Regions from separate parts of the Homo sapiens genome. Here region 2 is linked to region 1. Evidence: fine-mapped expression QTL. A gene starts in region 1. The other region holds a variant in brackets. All regions are shown on one strand. Distances are between the middles of the regions. Region 1 holds the start of EXOC7 (exocyst complex component 7). Region 2 overlaps ZACN (zinc activated ion channel).

Evidence for each region. PIP is the estimated chance that this variant, and not a neighbour inherited with it, causes the effect. A credible set is the group of variants that fine-mapping cannot tell apart.
Region 2: its variant is the best candidate, but not a certain one, in a credible set for the expression of EXOC7 in whole blood (INTERVAL, PIP 0.62).

Annotation. Positions count from the first base shown.
Region 1 is chr17:76,100,804-76,106,167 of GRCh38, reverse strand. It overlaps EXOC7 (exocyst complex component 7), which reads left to right and starts at 2,381. Exons shown (of 19, transcript NM_001013839.4): 1 at 2,381-2,535; 2 at 2,742-2,807; 3 at 4,305-4,489; 4 at 4,792-4,897. The coding sequence starts at 2,476.
Region 2 is chr17:76,080,554-76,085,917 of GRCh38, reverse strand. ZACN (zinc activated ion channel) reads right to left here. Exons shown (of 9, transcript NM_180990.4): 6 at 4,516-4,640; 7 at 4,163-4,373; 8 at 3,869-4,036; 9 at 3,112-3,455. The coding sequence ends at 3,265. EXOC7 (exocyst complex component 7) reads left to right here. Exons shown (of 19, transcript NM_001013839.4): 14 at 121-241; 15 at 509-604; 16 at 1,338-1,401; 17 at 1,629-1,670; 18 at 1,779-1,912; 19 at 2,168-4,902. The coding sequence ends at 2,270. Among named protein-coding and RNA genes, the nearest start is that of ZACN, 4.1 kb to the right of the region's middle. RefSeq lists a silencer at 4,624-4,824 and an enhancer at 4,909-5,364. The variant T/C (reference allele first, on the strand shown) is at 2,161.

The DNA of each region.
Region 1 (5,364 bases):
ATGATAAGGATTAGAGGAGCATTAGCAAGGGCAATGTTTGTAGTAGAGACAGGCAAACAGAAGACTCTCAGTACATGGTATTGTACTAATGGTATCTAACCCCATTAGACTCAGACACTGAAGGAAATGCAGTAAAGCACACACAGCTGATTGACAAAAATGCAATGACATTGTACAGATTTGAAAATATTAGCTTCCTCACGCACATAAAGGATTCCCAAGACCTATGGAGCAAAAAAAAAACAAAATTTTTTTTTTGCTTGAGATGGAGTCTTGCTCTGTTGCCCAGGCTGGAGTGCAATGGCACCATCTCGGCTCACCGCAACCTTTGCCTCCTGGGTTCAAGCAATTCTGCCTCAGCCTCCCGAGTAGCTGGGACTACAGGTGCACACCACCACACCCAGCTAATTTTTGTATTTTTAGTAGAGATGGGGTTTCACTATGTTGGCCAGGCTGGTCTCGAACTCCTGACCTCGTGATCCACCCGCCTCGGCCTCCCAAAGTGCTGGGATTACAGGCATGAGCCACCACACCTGGCCGGAGCAAAATATTTATTATCAGTATTTTTATTAAGCATCTACTATGGGCCAGGAACTGTTTAGAGACTCAGGCCAAGCACGGTGGCTCACACCTGTAATCCCAGCACTTTGGGAGGCCGAGGCGGGCGGATCAACTGAGGTTGGGAGTTCAAGACTAGCCTGACCAACATGGAGAAACCCCATCTCTACTAAAAATACAAAATTAGCCAGGGTGGTGGCCCATGCCTGTAATCCCAGCTACTCGAGAGGCTGAGGCAGGAGAATCGCTTGAACCCGGGAGGCAGAAGTTGCAGTGAGGCGAGATCACGCCATTGCACTCGAGCCTGGGCAACACAGCAAGACTCCGTCTCAAGAAAAAAAAAAGAGAGAGAGAGAGAGACTCAGGTTAAATGCTGGACCAGGCCCTCAAAGGTAGTCCACCTGAGCCCAAAACACCCTCTCTACAGCGGCTAACTAGCCCCGCTACTCTATTCTGTGACATCTAACAGTTTAAACTTTCTCCTACTTAGCCCTTTGGACTACACAAGGACCATGTCAGCGAAATCATCCTGGGTATTTCCTGACACAGGAATCAGCCTTTTATCTCCCCCACCTACAACAGGATTGAAATTGTCCTCTTGCCTGAGGGAAGGCTGCCCATCCCTCTCCAGGCTCTGTGCACCCACTTCCTCCTCCTCCTCCTCTTCGGGTGACTATGGGTGGAGTGAGCGCTTGGGAACCCTAGAGCTTGGGTTCTTCCTTCTCTCCTTCTCTCCTTAGGCCGGGAGCAGGGGCTCACGCCTGTAATCTCAGGACTTTGGAAGGCCAAGGCGGGTGGATCACTTGAGGTCAGGAGTTCGAGACTAGCCTGGGCAACATGGCGAAACCCTGTCTCTACTAATAATACAAAAAAATTAGCCGGGCGTGTTGGCAGCCGCCTGTAATCCCAGCTACTCGGGACGCTGAGGCACGAGAATCACTTGAACCCGGGAGGCAGAGACTGCAATGAGCCAAGATCGTGCCACTTGCACTCCAGCCTGGGCGACAGAGTGAGACTCTCTCTCAAAAGAAAAGAAAGGAAAAAAAAAGCTTGGTGTCCCCCCTGCCCGCCCCAAACCTTCTCATCTACCAGCACATGCCTCCTTGTCTATCTTCCGGGTGTCTGGACACTGAGGCCACAGAAGGACTGAACCAAGCTGGTCGGCCTTGTCCTTTCTCAAGGCTGGGGGCCAGAGGCAGGGTGGGCAGGGACGGGTTAGAGGAAGGAGTAACTCGAGGTTTTGCAGGAGCTGGGTCTGCAACCACAACATCCAGCCCCGCAGGGAAGTTGATCCAGGGGCGCCCCCCACCCCGTCCCCTGGAGCTGCAGTTGGACGCTGGGTCTGGGCCTGGAGCTCCGGAGCAGCCCCGCCAGCCCACAGGATACGTTTTTGCGTAATGCAGGGTGGAAGGCGGAAACAAGTACACAAGCCCCTGGTTCATTACATGGACACACGTTAGGCATCTACTGTGTCACCTGCTCCGTGCGGGGCTTTGTGGGAAACGCAATTGGCCTTGGTGCCTGCCCATAGAATGCGACCTGGGGAAAGGAATTCGTCGCCTTCCCCAGCAGTCTTTATCAAAAGGGTCGGTCTTTCAACGAAAACAGCAAGTGAGCTCTAAGTGTCCTGCCAGCCGCGGGACATAAGGCCGATCGAAAACCTCTGCTGAGGCAAGGAACCCGCGTCGAGGTCCCTTGCAGCATCCGAATACACTTCTCTTCCCAGCCACGCTCAAAATGGCCGTCGGTCCGTTCTTGGGCTCCGCGCAGGCGCACTTCAGCCTGCGATTCCCAACATGGCTCCGCCCAGGCGTCCCGGGGCGGGACCAAGAGCGGAAGTGGGTGTGACGGGGACGGGGGCCCGGTGGGCCCGCGGAGGAAAGATACTGGGGAGTGGGAGCCGCGGGGTTCAGAGCGATGATTCCCCCACAGGAGGCATCCGCTCGACGGCGGGAGATTGAGGACAAGCTGAAGCAGGTGGGCGTGGGCCTGGGGAGGCTGGGGAGGAGGTGAGGGAAAGGGGCCAACAGCGGGGCCTGATTGTCTACTCATGGAGGAGGCAGGGGTGGGAGGGAGCGCACCCAGCGAGGAGATGGGGTTGGGGGCTAGGCCGTGGGGTTGGGACGCAGTGGTCTCCTTTAGCTTCTGGTTTCTGGTGATGTCCTCCCCTTGCCTGCCCCCAGGAGGAGGAGACTCTGTCCTTCATCCGAGACAGCCTGGAGAAGAGCGACCAGCTCACTAAGAACATGGTGAGTCTCCCCGCAGCTGGGGGAGAGGGCAGGCCTCCGGACCCTGGGGGAGAGCCTTGCGACCTGGCGGTTCCGGTTCCTGCGGCCTGGAGTTCTGGAATGGGCAGCGACGGAGGCAGTGTGTGGGTTTATCTAGCAACAGTTTGGCATCTCTCCTGCCTAGCCCCCTCCCCATGTTCCGTACCCTCACTGAGGAGGCTGCACTTCCCACTGGCCTGGACTTGCTGCTTTCTGTCTAAGCTCGCCATTCTTCCTTCTCTCCTTCTGCAAACACTCAGTGAGTCTGACCAGTTGGGCTAGGTACTGGGCATATGTCATTGTCAGTGGACTCTCTGCCCAGGAGGTTGGCACTTTGAGATTCCTGAGGGCAGAGAAGACTCAGCCTTCACTCCAGAGGACTTTAGGGAAAGAAAGAGCTCTAAAGTCAGGCAGATCTGGGATCTAGTCCTTGCCCTTCTGCTTAAATGTGCGGCTCCTGATAGGTAACTGGTGTCAGCGAATTCATCTGCTAAAACAGAGACTGTGCCAGCCTCCCAGTGTGTCTGTGAAGGTCATATGCGCTAATGCATGCGACTGCATCTTGCACAGTGCCTGGTATACAATAGGTGCTCAATAAGTGAGTTTCCTTCTTTATTCCTAGGGGAGACTGGAAAAGCACAAAGTGAGTAAATACAAACTTGTATTTGCATTTAGTCACACAATAATAAAGTCCTAGTCCTTTTCTAAAAATTTTAATTTTTAAATTTTTTTTTTTAGAGGCAGAGTCTGGCTGTGTTGTGCAGGCTAGAGTGCAGTGGCATGACTGTAGCTCACTGCAGTCTCTAACTCCTGGGCTCAGGCAGTCCTCCTGCCTCGGCCTCCTAGCAGCTGGGACTGTAGGCACACACCACCACGCCTTGCTAATTGTGTGTGTGTGTGTGTGTGTGTGTGTGTGTGTGTGTGTCTGTGTGTGTAGACAGGGTCTCACTGTGTTGTCCAGGCTTGTCTTGAACTCCTAGTCTCAAGCTAACCTCCCGCCTCAGCCTCCCAAATTCTGGGTATTACAGGCATGAACCATCACGCCCAGCCTCTAGTCCTTATTCAATGAGTTTCATCCTTAGAGAGGGTTTTGAAGATACAGCAATGCATTTGAGGCTACTCTGTATGAAACTACTTCCAGTCCGGTTTAGGAATGCTTCAGAGAGAACAGAAGTTGAGATTTGGCTTCAAAGGGTGGAAGGGAAGCCATCTTGGGCTGATTATTTTAAGAAGAATTAATTTGATGCTTGGTTTGCCTTCAAATAAAATTTCAACCAATTTGTCTTAGACCACCTACTATATGCCAGGCACATGATAGGTGCTGAAGATACAGTGGGGAACAGGTACACCCTGTTCCTTCGCTTGTGGAGTTTATTGTCTAGAAAACCAGAGAAAAGGCAGGAAATGCCGAAGGTGGGTGTGTAGAAGCAGTGCTGGGACCACTGTGAGTCCCAAGATCAAGAGGCTTCCCTCCCGCAGGTGTCTATCTTATCATCCTTTGAGAGCCGCCTTATGAAGCTGGAGAACTCCATCATCCCTGTGCACAAGCAGACGGAGAATCTGCAGCGGCTGCAGGAGAATGTTGAGAAGACGCTGTCCTGCCTGGACCATGTCATCAGCTACTACCATGTGGCCAGTGACACTGAGAAGATCATCAGAGAGGGGTGAGTGAGTGAGGCCCAGAGGGTCAATTCCTAATGCCTCCTGGGCCAACAGGAGGGTTGGTCTGTAATCCCAACAATTTGGGAGGCTGAGGTGGGAGGATCGCTTGAGACTAGGAGTTCAAGACCAGTCTGGACAACACAGTGAGACGCCTTTTAAGCCCTAGGCCTTAAAAGGCAGTGGGGGGATAGAATATATTTGAGCCTGGAGTCCCCTGTATTAATTTTCTTTTTCCCAAATACTGTGTCCTTAGTCCTTCTTCATCCCCCATGCCCCAGCCTGACCTGGCTCTTTTCTTTCCCAGCCCCACAGGTAGGCTGGAAGAGTACCTGGGAAGCATGGCCAAGATTCAGAAGGCAGTGGAGTATTTCCAGGACAACAGCCCAGACAGCCCGGAACTCAACAAAGTGGTAAGGGGTCCGCAGAATAACGTGAGAAGCTTGGGGATATCAGTCTCTGCCCTGGTCTCATGAGGGACATGGAGCCAGCTTGAGGATGTATGCAGTAGAATACACAGAAGGATATAGCACAGTACATCCTATAGGCATTAGGATCTCTGCTTCAAGAATTGCACATTTTTTATTATTAAAAATTCTTTATTATAAAACTTGTTAATGTATTATAAAAATTAAATTATAAATTACATATAAAATATAAACTTAACATTTGATTTGTTGTTGTTGTTGTTGTTGTTGTTGTTTTTTCCTGAGACAGAGTCTTGCTCTGTCACCCAAGCTGGAGTACAGTGCTCAGCTCACTGCAACCTCTGCCTCCCAGGTCCATGTGATTCTCCCACCTCAGCCTCCCAAGTAGCTGGGATTACAGGCACTCGCCACCGCACCTGGCTAATTTTTGTATTTTTAGTAGAGACGGGGTT
Region 2 (5,364 bases), 20 kb after region 1:
GGCTAAGGCCTCCTGAGGCAGGACGAGGAGCGATGGATAGGAGCGCGTTCGCGGGTCCTGGGGTGGGGTCGTTTGGGTCAGACTGCCATGGTGGGTGTGGCCCCATTTTTCCCTGTGCAGGTAAAGTGCTGGGCAACCTGCAGTTGAACTTGCTGAGCAAGTCCAAGGTGTACGAGGACCCAGCTCTGAGCGCCATCTTCCTGCACAACAACTACAATTACATCCTCAAGTCCCTGGAGAAGTAAGTGGCCTGCGGGAGTGAGTCTGCGGCTCTCACCTTCCCCTCGGCTGTGCAGCTGTGCCAGCCCCTGCCCCCCTGGGCTCCTTCTCTTGTGGACGAGAGGGGAGGGGGTGCTTCAGTCTCCTCCACCCCAGGACCCGGAAGGTGGGATGCCATAGAGCTTGTGGAGTTTGGGGTGCAATGGGAGGCCCTCCCGGCATTGCCGCAGCCTTTGGGCCTGAGGAGCCAATCCTGTCCTCCTCTCCTCTGTCCCCTACCCCGACCCAGGTCTGAACTGATCCAGCTGGTGGCAGTGACACAGAAGACTGCTGAGCGCTCCTACCGGGAGCACATTGAGCAGCAGATCCAGACCTACCAGCGCAGGTGAGAGGCTGGGCCCGCCCTGCTCCTGCATGGGCCCCTGTGCCACCACGCACTCTTCCTTCTCAGCACCTCAGGACACAGAGTCGGTCACGGGGAACTCCTGTCCTCTGGACCCTAATCCTCCACTTGGTTTCTAATCAAACTCACGGGGTGGAGAGAGAAGCCCCCTCCTCTACCACTACCTGCTCCTAGGGGCCCACTATGGCCACTTTAGAGGGGAGTCTGCCAAGTGTCAAGGCTAAGAATGATTGAAGAGCTGGCTCTCAGAGACGTGGGTAATGTTTACCTAGGAGAAGAGCAAGGTCGCGAGAGCACTTGAACGTGGCTGAGCCTTGCTCTGTGAGGATCCCGCTGCTTCTCTGGTCCTCTTTCTTCCTGGCTTTGTTTCTTCCCTTTGAATGTGTCTACCTCTTCCTTCTCATTTATCTGCCCTCCACTCCTTTCTTTCTCATCTGTTTCTCCATCTTAGTTTGCCACGATATTGATGTGAAGTATAGTTGACAGTATTTGTCCAATTTATTGAACACTCAAGTGTTTCCTAATGTTATCTCAAAAAGTGACCAGTTTAAAGATTTTCTCTTCCCAGGAAGAAAACCTGTTGTTTGCTTAGTTGTGACCCACATCCCTTCCTACCACCACCCACCAAGTAGATCCAGAGATTTAGCAAACGAAACAAGCCAGGCCACTGAGGCAGGCCACCCTCTGCCCTCATGCTTCTCTTTCTGTCTGGCAGCTGGTTAAAGGTGACTGATTACATCGCAGAGAAGAATCTACCTGTGTTCCAGCCGGGAGTCAAGGTGGGCTCAAGACCTGGGCTGGGAAGGGGTGTCTGGCAGACGGGATACTTTTTGTCGTGTCTCTGGGAAAAAGTGGACAAGCATCCCTCTGGGATCAGAGAGCAAAGGATGCATGTGGCCATCAGGACACAGGAGACAGGCCCAGACCAAGGGTGTTTGGGGAAGAGTGGGGGAAGGCTGCTCTGCTCTGAAGTGAGCTTTCTCTGCTATCTCTCCTGGCTTCCCAGCTCCGGGACAAGGAGCGGCAGATTATCAAGGAGCGTTTTAAGGTGAGTCGGGGTCCTCTCCCCTCCACTGCTTGCTGCTGCTGTTGAGGCAACACAGACCCAAAATGTTTGTCTCTGGGTGCCTTCCTTTTTCACCTTTTTGGTGGCCAGGGCTTCAATGATGGCCTCGAAGAACTGTGCAAAATCCAGAAGGCCTGGGCTATTCCAGACACAGAGCAGAGGGACAGGATTCGCCAGGCCCAGAAGACCATTGTCAAGGAGACCTACGGGGCCTTTCTACAGAAGTGAGGCCTCCATTCCCCTCCCAGCCTGTGCTGCCCACAGCCCCAGTGGGCCTCTTCAAGCTCCTCTTCCTCAAGGGAAAAAGGAGAAGGGTGGTGGATTTAGGCAGCAGATCCAGCGACCTGGGCTTTGGGGCGGGGCCAGACAGGGAATCGCTCAGGGCCACCCCTTCCAAGACTATCAGGAGTGCCTTAGGCTGAGGGTGGAGCTGGGGAGGGGTCGGCCCTCCCTGTCCCCTGACCACAGTGCC[T/C]CCTCAGGTTTGGCAGCGTGCCCTTCACCAAGAACCCGGAGAAGTACATCAAGTACGGGGTGGAGCAGGTGGGCGACATGATCGATCGCCTTTTCGACACCTCTGCCTGAGCCTGCTGCTAGCCCTGCCTGGTTCCACCAGACTGGCGTGTCATTGGACAGATAAACCAGTGTTAGCTTGCCTCTGGGCTGGGTGAGCTTGAAGTCCTCTGGGACAGAGACCTGTCTCCACGCCTCCGGGAGCTGTGTCCCTGAGCCCCCTAGTCCTGGCTCCTGCTTTTTCCCCACAGCCCGTGTTCCCAGCCGAACCAGCACTCTCCCGGAAGCCTGGGGTCCCTCCACACCTTGGCTTTTATGACCCTGATGGCTTCTGAAACAGGAAAAGAGAGAAGGAAGACAGAGGCCTGTGCCCACTGCTGCTCCATGTGTACCAAGAGCAGCAGGGCAGAAGGGCCCTCCCTCCAGCCTAGGTCAGAGGTGGGGACAGAGAACTCCCCTACAGCCCAGAGATGTGGCAGGGCTCAGAGAAGCAGCCAGAGCTCCTGGAGGAAAGGCAGTCGGGACTGACCCCCTCTCTTAAAACACATTCCCGCCCGCCCACAGGCCTGAGGTCTGGGACCTTTCCCTCCCAGGAGTCCCCTAGGTGGCTGGGGGAGGCAGGCTCACTGGCCATTTTCCCTAGAGTCCAGCACACTGCAGGAGGCGTTCGGAGGAGGAGTTCCGCCCCACCCTCTACAGCCTTCCTCAGGCCCCTGTCTCTGGCCCCCAGCCTCAGTGCCTCTTGGCCCAGGGCCAGGCAGTCGTGGTTGCAGAAGGAGCAATTAGGCTGCCTGCCTGTGGGCTGGGAGACAGGGACAATGGGGAAAAGTTAAGGAGCAAAATGGGGGTTGGAAGCAAAAAATAGGGCCCCACCTATTTAGGACGAGATTGAAGACTGACCCTTGAGGCACACTTGCACTGGAGATGGGTTTATTTCACGCTCTGTGCTTGTGTGCTAGCGGAGGGAGAGCTCAGGGTGGCTTAATCCAGAGGCCCTGTCATGGCCCGCCCCCAGCCATGGGAAAGCAAACTTCATCCTAAGGTGTGCAGCCCAGGCCCTGCCCCTTTACAGTCTAGGCCGCCTGCCATGGGGTGCAGCCTCTCCAGGGGCTGCGTCAGACTTGCACGCTGCCCACATCCAGATTCCTGCAAAGACGAATTGGGTGCACAGCACCCCAACCACATACACGAGGAAGAAGATGCGGTCAGCAGTCTCAGGCCAGCTTCTCTGTGACCCCTTTACTCCTCTGGAGGGCTCTGTGGGGAGAGATACAGGGAAAGGAGCTGTTCTTCAAGGTCCCCTCAACATGAGCGGAAGAGCGAACCCCAGGGGTCATCAGCCTGTATCGCTTCCTTTCTTAGATTCTCAGCTGATGAAAATTTGGGTCTGGCCCATTTCAGGCCATCTTCAGTTGAAGAAACACCCTCTTAGGCTGTGCAAGGCATGGGTTATCAGGGGATTGAGGTCACCTGGGACTTCAGGGAGGCTCAGCTTGCTCCCTGCCCCAGACCTGTTTCTTCTAAGGGAGGAGGACATGGTGGAGACCAGGGACAGGAGAGCCAGCAGGGTGGATGCAAGGGGCCTCTACCCACACCTGGACCTCCGTGCCCTCACCCCAGCCCTAGGTGTGCACCTAGGCCTCATTCCTTACCCCCCAGCCCCTGCCCACCTTCAGCAGGATGAGGCCCTGGGTTGCCGTGCTCTCGCTGTTCCCCTCTCGGGGCTGGGCTGGGGCCGCTCTTGGCCCCAAGGTTGCCCCGGGCCAGCAGCCCAGCCAGCAGCACAGTCTCTATGGTGCTGAGGAAGAGCAGCAGCAGCAGGATGGTGAAGTAGTAAACTGGGGGAGGCAGGGCACAGGGAGATGCTCAGGGGCCAGTCCCTGTGTCTCTGGTGCCCAGCGAGCTGAGCACCAGTGGGTGACCGGGGAGAAACAGGGCAGACTGGGTAAGGGAGCAGGGCTTACTGAGCAGTGGGTTGCAGGAGGAGGAGCTGGGCAGGGCCTGCACCAGGGAGGAGTGGAGGACGAGGTAACTCAGCAGCAATGTCACCTTGTAGCCTATGCGCTCAATGGCCCGGAGGGGCAGCAACCCCCCGCACACGTCAGCCAACAGCAGTGCCTCTGCAGGCACCAAGAGAGCGATGATGGACTTGAGCGCCGTGTTCTTCAGCCTCAGCTGGAAGGGGAAAAGTCAGGGCCTTCCCGGCGGGGGGGAAGGAGGTGGGCATCGGGGGCATGGGGCCTGGCCTCTGGCCGTGCATCCTCACTCCCACCCGCCTCCAGCAGCCCTCTGTCGGCCTCCTCCCGACTTGACTCACCGTCACCTGGAAGCAGGGCACCAGCTGCTGGGGTGGGACTTGGGTCTTCAGATCATAAACTACGTATTCCCTCTTGACACTCACAATCTCGTTCACCACGTGGGCCTGGAACTCTAACTCCATCGCTGAGGGGTGGGAATGAGAACTATGAACCAGGAAGGAGAGATCCCAGCTGCCAAGTCTGGGGGTAGCAGACTGGAGCCCAGGGGTGATGGAGACTTTTGATGGCTTTTGGCAGGGACAGACTTGGACACAAAACCGATCCATAGAAGGGCTTCCCAAACCTTGTTTTGCAACATCCCAAATTGTCTCCAGTTGAAGGAAGGCCTTTATCAGATTCATAGATGAGCTTTCATTGTAAAAATAAATGTACTTTGCACCACTTCATGATGGAGGGAGAAGTGGTCACAGGCTCGTCAGTCTATCATCTCACAGCTGAAGCAGGATCCCCAGGGCTACCGCTGTGGTCTCTCATGGAGGGAAGGGTAGGACTTCTCTGCCAAGTTAGATGTCACCTGATGGGTTTATACAGGGTGGCTGCACCTTCAGGTGGTTTCCAGGAGTGAGGCCATGGCAACCTGAGCCTCTGGCCTTGCTGCAAGGGGCCGAGCCACTGCAGTCGCCATGGCTGTGGAGGGCAGTTGCTCTGGGGAGGACAGAAGACTGATGTGCTCGGACCTCTGGGATTGCAGAGCTGCTGCGAATGTTTGAGTCTGTCACCCTAGAGAGGGGCCCTGAGGCTACCGCTGAGCACAGAGATGGGCTGCCACTCGAGTGGGGGGCGCAGTGGGAGAGCAGGTGCTGCCCGCCTAAGCCTGGGGTAGACTGCTCTGAACACAGACCTGGGAG